2 separate regions of the Homo sapiens genome follow, and region 2 is linked to region 1. Evidence: fine-mapped expression QTL. A gene starts in region 1. The other region holds a variant in brackets. All regions are shown on one strand. Distances are between the middles of the regions.

Region 1 (4,254 bases):
CAAAGGAGGCCTCTTCTGGAAGCCCACCCCAGTACTCACCCACCCTTAGCGGGAGCTCACACCAGAAGCGATGGGCGCTAAAGGGACAGGCTGTGTGTCCTTCAGGGTTTGCACCCACCGGCCTGTGAGCGCCCTGCGCAAAAGCCAGGCTCCTGTGCCTTGAGTTCCCAGTTCCTAGCGCAGTATTTGACACTGGCACATGACAGGTGCTTTCTATGTCGGCTAGTAGTAGAACAAAAGACTAGGAAACTCTTTCGATGTGGGAAGAGTTGGGTCAGAAGGTTCTCCTGAGAAACCAGAAAGGCCAGGAATGTGGAGACTAGTCATCCAGGACGCAAAAGATGAAAATGGAGTTTTAGTGGGTAATAGGGTCTTAGCACACTCCTCTCTAGCGGTTCTCTCCTGTCTGGCGCTTAACAACCGAAGAATAAGTGGATGGACCCCGGTGGCCCCTCGGGCAGCCCTCCAGGATTCATGGGCCGCAGAGGAACGTCAACCCCCTTCCCACTGGCTGATAATGCCCCGAGGGGCAGCCCCCCAGGTGCCCATGTGGTTGGTGGGTGGGATCCAGATCTCCGCAGAGCCCCTGTTACAGGTTTCTCTTGTTCGGGGTCTTGTAGCCAGAGAGGGGCGGCTGACTGGGAGTCCTTCCCGCGTTCCCCTCCCTGCAGAGCGAGTGGATGCGCGTCTTCCCCGGCAGAGTGCAGGATGCCGGCGACACATTTGCCTGGGAACAGTGGGAGGGTCCCCTTTCCTCCGGGGCCGGTGAACTACTCGCCTCTCCGCCTGCAGGCTCCGGAGCAGGTGACCGGATCTTCCCTTGGCCCTTCTCCCGCCGGTTCTCGGACCACTCCCTCTGGAAGGAAGTCTCTCCGCCCTTCCTCTTCCTCCCCGCCCCCGTCCCGCTGGTGTGGCTGCAGGCTCGAGCTGGGGTCACTCGGCGGCCAGTGTGCGCAGGTCTCCTGGTCGCCGGCCAGAGGGCGAAAGCATTCACCCGAGGCCCCCAGCTTCGCGGCTGCCTTGGCTGCGAGCAACGAGGGAAGAGGAGGCAGGCGCTCCAAAACTGGGCGAAGATTCCTATCCTAATTTCTAACTCGAGCCTCCCACCGTCAGTGCGCTTAATGGCGCTGCTGGCCGGATGGATAATCGAGCTCTCTGGAGGGACAGACGCGGCCGCCATCCCTAATAAATCGTGAATAACGAATGAGGGAATCGACCATCCTCATGAGGCCCACGGGCGTCCAGTAACGCAGTATCGATTCGCTTCCCCGGCGTCGGCCTCACCGCTACTCCCGGCGTTTCCAAGCCTCCCTCCTCGTTCTCTCCCTCCTGCCGGAGCCACTGCGGACCGGAGCCCCAGCGCCAGGTGGAGCCGGGGCGCCAGTGGGAGTCGGGCCCAGCCGTCTTGGCGCTCGCCCGACTCTCCCGCCCGCGCGCCCAGGGAGGCGCACAGGCAGCGCGCAGCGCAGGGCGCGAGCGAAAAATGCGGGAATCAGCGCCAGGCAGGAGAAAAGGCGCGGGCCCACCTTACAGCCCGGCGCCTCGTTTCCTAGTCCAGTGTGGCCGCTCGCCTTCGGCCGGATTATTGTGTCCCAGACCCGGAGCCTGAGTTCCCATCCTCAGCGGGCCTCCGTTCTTCTCTGCCCGAGCACGCCGGGGGCGCAGCCTCCGCCAGAGCTACCCGATCCCCCCGCGGCGAGGCCCCCCACCCGGCCTCACCCCGCACCTCCACTCCCCTCTCGCGATTGCTCCCTGCCAGGCGCCCAGGCTGGATCCTGGTGCGCCGCTTTTCGGGGCCAGCGCCCCTGCCGCCGAGGGGGCAAGGGGAGTGGGGAGGACACGCTCGCCCTCCCAGATGCAGTTATTAATTTTAAGGGAGTGTCACTTGGAGTGAATGAAAATCGCTCGGACGCCTGGCTGAAGGCGTCGCGTCCCCCGCCGGAGCCCCGCGCCCTTTGGTCTAGGCCGGGGCGTGGAGGACCACGAGCCACCTTTCAGCCCAGTCCCCATTTCACCATTTTCCAGGCGCCCCAGTTAGGGATGGGCATCACAGTGTCAGTGGGGGGAACCCATATTTTGAAGGGAGGGGGGCTAACTGCGGAAGGTAACATAAGAGAATCCATCCTCCGGGGTCGGGGCGGCCGCATGGGAAGGGAGGGGTCTCGTCCTGGCTAGGGACCCGGCAGCCGGTGGCGGGGAGCGGCCGCGCCAGCCTCCCCCTCCTCTTCCCGTCTCTGCCAGCATCCTGAAGGAATGAGGTCACGTGGGTGAGTGGTGGGCGGGACCTACTCTTGTCTGGAGGAAAAAAGCCATTTTGTCTCCCCCCCACACTCCGGTCCCTCCCCTCCCCCCTCGGTCCCCTCCCCTCCCCTCTCCCTCCCACCCCAAGCCGCTTTCACAAACTCCTTTCTTACCGTAGGTTTCTCCCCTCCCGCCGCCCGGGCGAGCGACACGGCTGCGGCCCCCCTCCCCTCCCTTCCCTCCCTCCCTCCCATCCCCCCCTCCCCGAGACCCACCGGACCCCGAACCCAGGTAAGCGGAGCGGACTCCCCCTGCCTTTCCCTCTCCTGGCCTGTAACCCTCTGGGGATTGGGATGGGGGCCGGCCGTTCTTCGCAAGCCCCGATGGGAGGGGGAGGCTCTGAGCCGATCCTGCCTTCGCACCCCCCGCGCCCCGTCAGTCCCTAGCCCAGCTTGCCCCGTCCGCCTTTCTTTCTCCCTTTTTTCTGTCCCTTTTTCCCTTTCCTCTCTTCCAAGATGGCCGAAACGGGCTCCCCGTCTTAACGATTTGGCGTCTCCCTCGACCACCACCTCTTTGTGCAGCAGCCCCCGGGCAGACCCTGTTCCGAGGTAGCGAGGGGGAAGGTCCGGGGCAGCCGGGAGGGCTTGCGGGATGCGCGCTGGGTTGGGTCGCCGCTCCCCACGAGCCAAAGCCGCCTCTCGCTCTGCCCGGTCTACCCCCTTTTCCATCTGGGCGGGGGTCGCTCTCCCGTGGGCACAGGGGCGCCGTGGACGCGCGGGGACTTGGGGCCGGCAGAAGGGGATGTGCTTTGGGGCGGCCGCGAGGCCGGGGGAGGGCGCCCTTCCCCGCCGGGGTCCGGGTCCTCTCGGGCACCTCCCCCCGCCGGTCCCCGCTCCCCGTCCCGGCGCCGGCGCCCCGCCCCCTCCCCGAACCACCTCAGCAGAGCCTCCCTCCGGAACACCCCTCCCGGGGCCCCGCAGAAAGTTTGGCTCTAGGGAAGGTGGGAGCGGCCACCCGGTAACTGGGGTCCCTGATCCTTGGACATGGGCTCCTGGGGAAGCCCGGGCGCTGGGGGTAGAATGGGGATGGAGGGAAATTTATCGCAATATTTCCCATCGCCAGCGGAAGCAGGGGGATCTGCTAAACTGGCCCCCCTTCCCCTGGGACGCCCAGCCACCCCACCCTGCGCACGCCCTCCTACTGCTAGCTCTGAGGGCGTGGGACCCCCGGGCAAGCAGACACCCCCTGCCTGTCTCCACGGTGGGCCCGGGCTGCCCCTCGCCCTCCCCCACTGCCCCTGTCTGCCCATAATCGCTCCGGTTGGCTTGAGGTGGGAGGAGGCGGCATGGAGGCGGGTGGATTTGCCAGTGAATATTGTGGAAGTGTTACCCAGCGCTTCCCGAGATCTTTGTCCCTCAGTGTCCCCCATGCTGCCTCAGTCTCCCCAGAGGTCTGTCTCGAGGGGAGGGCTGTCTCCTGGTTGTCCCCTCCCCGCTCTGTTCTGATGCCTCCTCCTCTGGGACCTCTGGCAGTTTCTGTTCCTGAAACTCTTTAATTTCTCTCCTCCCTCCCCCCTTCACTCTGGTCCAAGGTGTTATTACTGGGAGCATAAAGCCAGCTCTGTTGCAGCTTTTTGGTGGGAAGGTTTTCCCACGGGCTCCCCTGGTTGGGGGTTGGGGGATTGAGGCTTTAGAACTGACTTTGGAATGAAGCAGGAAACCAACCCCAGGATCCAGACCATGTGTAGCTAGGTAGGGTTCAAGTTGAAGTCTTGGGGGTTGGGCAGGAAGGGGGACTCTGCTGCCCCTGGCCTTGCCTGAGAGATCTTGGTTGATGGAGCTGTTGTCATGGGAATGGAGAGAGCCCGAACAGGAAGAGGGTACAGCTTTGTGCAGGTCACATGCCCACTGCAGCCCTCCAGCCTCTGGTCCCCAGAGCGGACTTTGGAAGCTGAACTGCTTTTGTTGCTGGAAGACTTATGTTATAATTTACCCTGGGTGGACCAGGGTCGTA
Region 2 (4,501 bases), 130 kb before region 1:
ATACCTCCCACTTCCTGTGGGATGCCTGGCCAGAGGAGTGGGCTGGGTGTCCCAGGCTCTGTCAACACAACACATCCTTTCTACCCTTCCCTCATCCTCTCCCACCCCAGGAGGAGGGCAGGAGAGCACCCGGCAGCGGGTCTCCCACTGAGGCACTGAAGGGCTCTACTTCAAAGCCTTGAAGGTGGACACCCCTATAGTGGACATCAAAGCTCTACCCCACTAACTGTATGGCCTTGGGCGGGGCCCTGCACCTCAGAGGAGCCCACTTCCTGGTGTGTACAATGGATGTAATAACACCTGGCCCTCCTGGGATTGTCCAGGACTGAGGAGAAATCACCTTCAAAGCCCTCAGCACAGCACTTGGCACCTCTGAGCACTCAGATGTCAGGTGCTGGGCACAGCAGGTGTGAACCTTAGCCGAGGGGGTCAGGGCTCACACTGGAGATTGTGTGTGTTGGGGTGCAGAGGGGCTTCACTGTGCCAACCACAGCTCCAATCCATTCATGCGTGTGAGAATGTGGGACACGGCCGGGCACGGTGGCTCACGCCTGTAATCCCGCACTTTGGGAGGCCGAGGCGGGCGGATCATGAGGTCAAGAGATCGAGACCATCCTGGCTAACATGGTGAAACCCCATCTCTACTAAAAAGACAAAAAAATTAGCCAGGCGTGGTGGCGGGTGCCTGTAGTCCCAGCTACTTGGGAGGCTGAGGCAGGAGAATGGCGTGAACCCAGGCCACTGCACTCCAGTCTGGGTGACAGAGCAAGACTCCGTCTCAAAAAAAAAAAAGAGAATGTGGGACACAGGGCCCATCCAGGGTGGCCGACGGAGGGAAGAGAGTGATGACAGAAAGAGAACAGATCTAGCCGGGAGCGGTGGCTCACGCCTATAATCCGAGCACTTCGGGAGGCTGTGGCAGGCGGATTACTGGAGGTTGGGAGTTCAAGACCAGCCTGGCCAACATGGTGAAACCCCGTATCTACTAAAAATACAAAAAAATTAGCCGGGTGCAGTGACGGCGTGCCTGTAATCCCAGCTACTCGGGAGGCTGAGGCAGGAGAATCGCTTGAACCCAGGAGGCAGAGATTGCGGTGAGCTGAGATCATGCCACTGCACTCCAGCCTGGGGTATAGAGCGAGACTTAATCTCAAAAATAAATAAATAAATAAATAAATAAATAAATAGGCCGGGTATGGTGGCGCATGCCTGTAATTCCAGCTACTTGGGAGGCTGAGGCAAAAGAATCACTTAAACCCAGGAGGTGGAGGTTGCAGTGAGCCAAGATTGTGCCACTGCACTCCAGCCTGGGTGACAGAGCAAGACTCTGTCTCAAAAAAAAAAAAAAAAAAAAGAGAAACGATCTAACAGGCTCCACGTGGCAGCCTGGAGGGGTCTTTGTGGAACCCCTGAGAAGTATTGATGCTTAGGCAAACCCATGACAACAGGATCTAAATTCACCCCCAGAAGCCCAGGATGATGTGCTGGATCACCACCAAACAGGGGTCCACTGCCAGGACCCCAGAATAATCCAGGCCACCTGAGTGACCTGGCTGGCCTGTCCCTGCCCCATTTCCCAGTAGTCAAGGGAGACATTCCCCATTCCAAAAGAAGGAGGCCAGGAGGCAGGCCCAGGGGGACTTTTGAAGGAGCCCAGCCACAGAGCTGGTTCTTGGCCATTTGTCAAGGAATTCCCCCAAGGCGATGCTTTTCAAAATGTTGTCTCCAAACCCCCGGAGGGAGAGGTGCTTCTGAGACACTGGGAGGAGGGGATAGCAGAAAGAAGGCTGAGAATCTGGGATTCAACCTCCCTACCATGGCCCACTTCAACCAGAGACCCCCAGGGTAATTTCAGGGGGAAATCACCTTCTAATAGGGTACTGGTTCCCTATCAAGAAGACCCAAAGGAAAAACCTAATGGTGGAATATTAAACAGAATGCTAGGAGAACCACTCTTGGGGAGGACGGCCAGCCGGAAGTCTGGAAGCAAAGAAGTGGCGGGTCTAAGCTTGGCCCCCTCCCCAACCTGGGCCTATCCCAGTGACCCAGGGCCCCCAAACTCCTATGAGGCAACTTAAAGACTCCTTCTGGTGCATAACCCAATAGACAGAACCCACCGGGACACTAAGACAGACTGGTCCCTGCCCCCACAGGCCCCTGAAGTGGTGCATACCCCAACACACAGAACCCACCAGGGACACTAAGACAGGCTGGTCCCTGCCCCCACAGGCCCCTGAAGTGACAGCCCCACTCCCTCCCCGAGTAACTGGGAGGCATTGGCAGGGTGCCCCAGCCTGGTCACCACCCAGTCTGCTGGCCTCTGCCTACTTAGCTGCACAGGCCCCTGCCTAGGCCCCTGCCTGGGCCCCTGCCTCCCCCTACCCCCACAGGGGCCTGCCAGGAAAAACATTCTCCAGAATCCAGACCATGACCCACTTTC[TCA/A]CACACACACACACACACACACACACACACACGAAGGGCTACACACTGTCCTAGGACCACGGACCTCCAAGGCTGCCTCCTGATTGACGTTGGGGAGACAAAGGGAGAGAGACCCCTACTCCAGATGGCCAGGCCTGCACCCGGAGCCAAGCCCCTTGGAGAAGGAGGGTGGGGTGTACTGAGCAGGCAGGGGGCACAGGGCCAACACTGGACCCAGTGGTTCCAAAGACCCCTCCAGGCTGCCACGCGGAGGAAGCAGAGCCCCTCTTCTAGGGGATGGCACCTATTTCTATCAGTAGCTCCTTCCCACCTCCCTCACAGGCCCCACACTCTCATCCAGACACCCAAGGGTGGGGCAGAGGAGGGTGGTCGCCTGTCCCCCTGCAGGGGGCTCTGAGCAGAAACATGGAAACCAGTTACTATGAAGCACAAGTGTCAAGTGGAGCTGCAGCCACTGTCTCCCAGAGTGCTGGAAGGTCAGGAGAGGAGGCCGTTCCACCCCTAATGCTTGGCACCTCCAGCAGCTTCAGGCGACTCCCCTACCCTCTCTGGAGGAAGGCCCCAAGGTTCAAGAAAACCCACCAGCTCCTTCCACTGTGTCCTTTTTGGGGTAGGAAAATTGTGGGGAGGGGAGGCAGAAAATGGCCAGTCCCTCCACAACCGCTGTGAGCCAAGCCTGGACCCTAAGATGAAAGAACTCCTGCCTTGTCTCAATGGGGTCTGGGGAAGGACACTGTCAGGGAAATATGTCCAGAGGACCCCACAGTGACCCCGTCTGCCTCTGCCCTGCCCCATGGGCTCTGTCCCAGAGCAAGAGCCCCCCTCTTTTAAAGGCCCCAGGCAAGATGATTTCAGCGAAGCATTCCTGGGCCTCAGGACTCAAGGAAACTGCACCTCGAGGCATGCACCTCTGCCCCTTCCTGCTGCCTGCAAAGTCCATGGCTTCCCTGTTCACAGAAACCAGACAGACCCTACCTCTGCTGCCTGTTAGAGGCCTCTCAGCCTGGATCCGAGGCTCCAAGGCAGGGTCATCTTGATCTTCCCTTGCCTACCTGCAACCCACTCTAAAGAAAGGTAAACAGGCTGGTAGGGGCAGAAGCCTGCAAGGATACCCCTCACTTGGGACAGCCTGTCCCTCTGTGGCTCTGGGTTGGGGGGGATGTGGCAAGCTTCGTGTCACTGTGCCTGCAGCCTGGCACCTTGGCCTCTGAACCCAGGCTACCTGGGGTGGCCATGACTCAGGGATGGATTATGAGACCATCTCTTCCCTTCCTGTTGCCCAGGGTTACAGTTTCTCCCTCCTGCAGAGGCAATGCCAGCCCCACCCTGGCCGGGGCACCAGCCTAGCTTGGTTGGCCACCTGACCCGCTGGCTTAAAGGCATAGATCTTTGCTGCACCTCCACAAATTCCGAGGAGGACAGGATTATTCCCAGTGGCCCCACGCCCCCATACAAGACCCCAGGCCCAGAGCATTCCTCCAGATAGGGTCAGGAAGGGATGGGACCTACTTTTGGCACAAATGAGATGTAAATAAAATATAAATATGTATAAATAAAAGTACTTTCTGCAAACACACTGGCAGAAGAGCTGAGCAGAAAGAACTGTGGATGTGAATTTCAGCTCTAAGAGAGGGAGATGAGCCACATGGGCTACCTGAGCCTCCATTTATGGAGTGCATCGTTTACAAGAGCGAATACACCTACTTTGTGAGGCTGCTGTGAAGACTGAGCCCAGCATATCGTGATAACTAGTAGCTATTATGAAGGGATGGTCACAAGATGATGGTGGGGTACTCTAAGCTTCAGCTAGCAAAACGGGGCACCACAGCTGTGAGGACTTCAACCCCCTCGAGTGGGGAGGGAGCGCTGAGACAAGCAGAGGCAGAGAGCCCACCCTAACAGGGGATTCCAGGGGAACTGGCAGCAGACCAATCCTCTACCTCCACCTGTTTTCAGAAACCTGGGGAAGCAAGCCAGGAAAGAGGGACGTGGCGAGGTTCTTGACAACACAGCTCCCTAGATACAAAGCAGGTGCACAAAGTAGGTGCTCAATAAATAT

Alleles and levels. Positions count from the first base shown, and alleles are read on the strand shown. Sizes are in standard deviations (SD) of each study's normalised expression.
For the expression in skin of the gene that starts at base 2,392 in region 1, allele TCA in region 2 goes with a lower level than allele A (small effect, 0.35 SD a copy in TwinsUK).

What was found. PIP is the estimated chance that this variant, and not a neighbour inherited with it, causes the effect.
Region 2: its variant is the best candidate, but not a certain one, in a credible set for the expression of PCGF2 in skin (TwinsUK, PIP 0.50).

What each region holds. Positions count from the first base shown.
Region 1 is chr17:38,746,474-38,750,727 of GRCh38, reverse strand. PCGF2 (polycomb group ring finger 2) reads left to right here and starts at 2,392. Exons shown (of 11, transcript NM_007144.3): 1 at 2,392-2,532; 2 at 2,757-2,849. It overlaps LOC100287808 (a long non-coding RNA gene), which reads right to left and starts at 1,694. Exons shown (of 1, transcript NR_149004.1): 1 at 1-1,694. RefSeq lists enhancers at 2,259-2,794, 3,823-4,254.
Region 2 is chr17:38,873,030-38,877,530 of GRCh38, reverse strand. The region is part of intron 1 of LASP1 (LIM and SH3 protein 1); the gene reads right to left. Among named protein-coding and RNA genes, the nearest start is that of LASP1, 5.2 kb to the right of the region's middle. The variant TCA/A (reference allele first, on the strand shown) is at 2,441.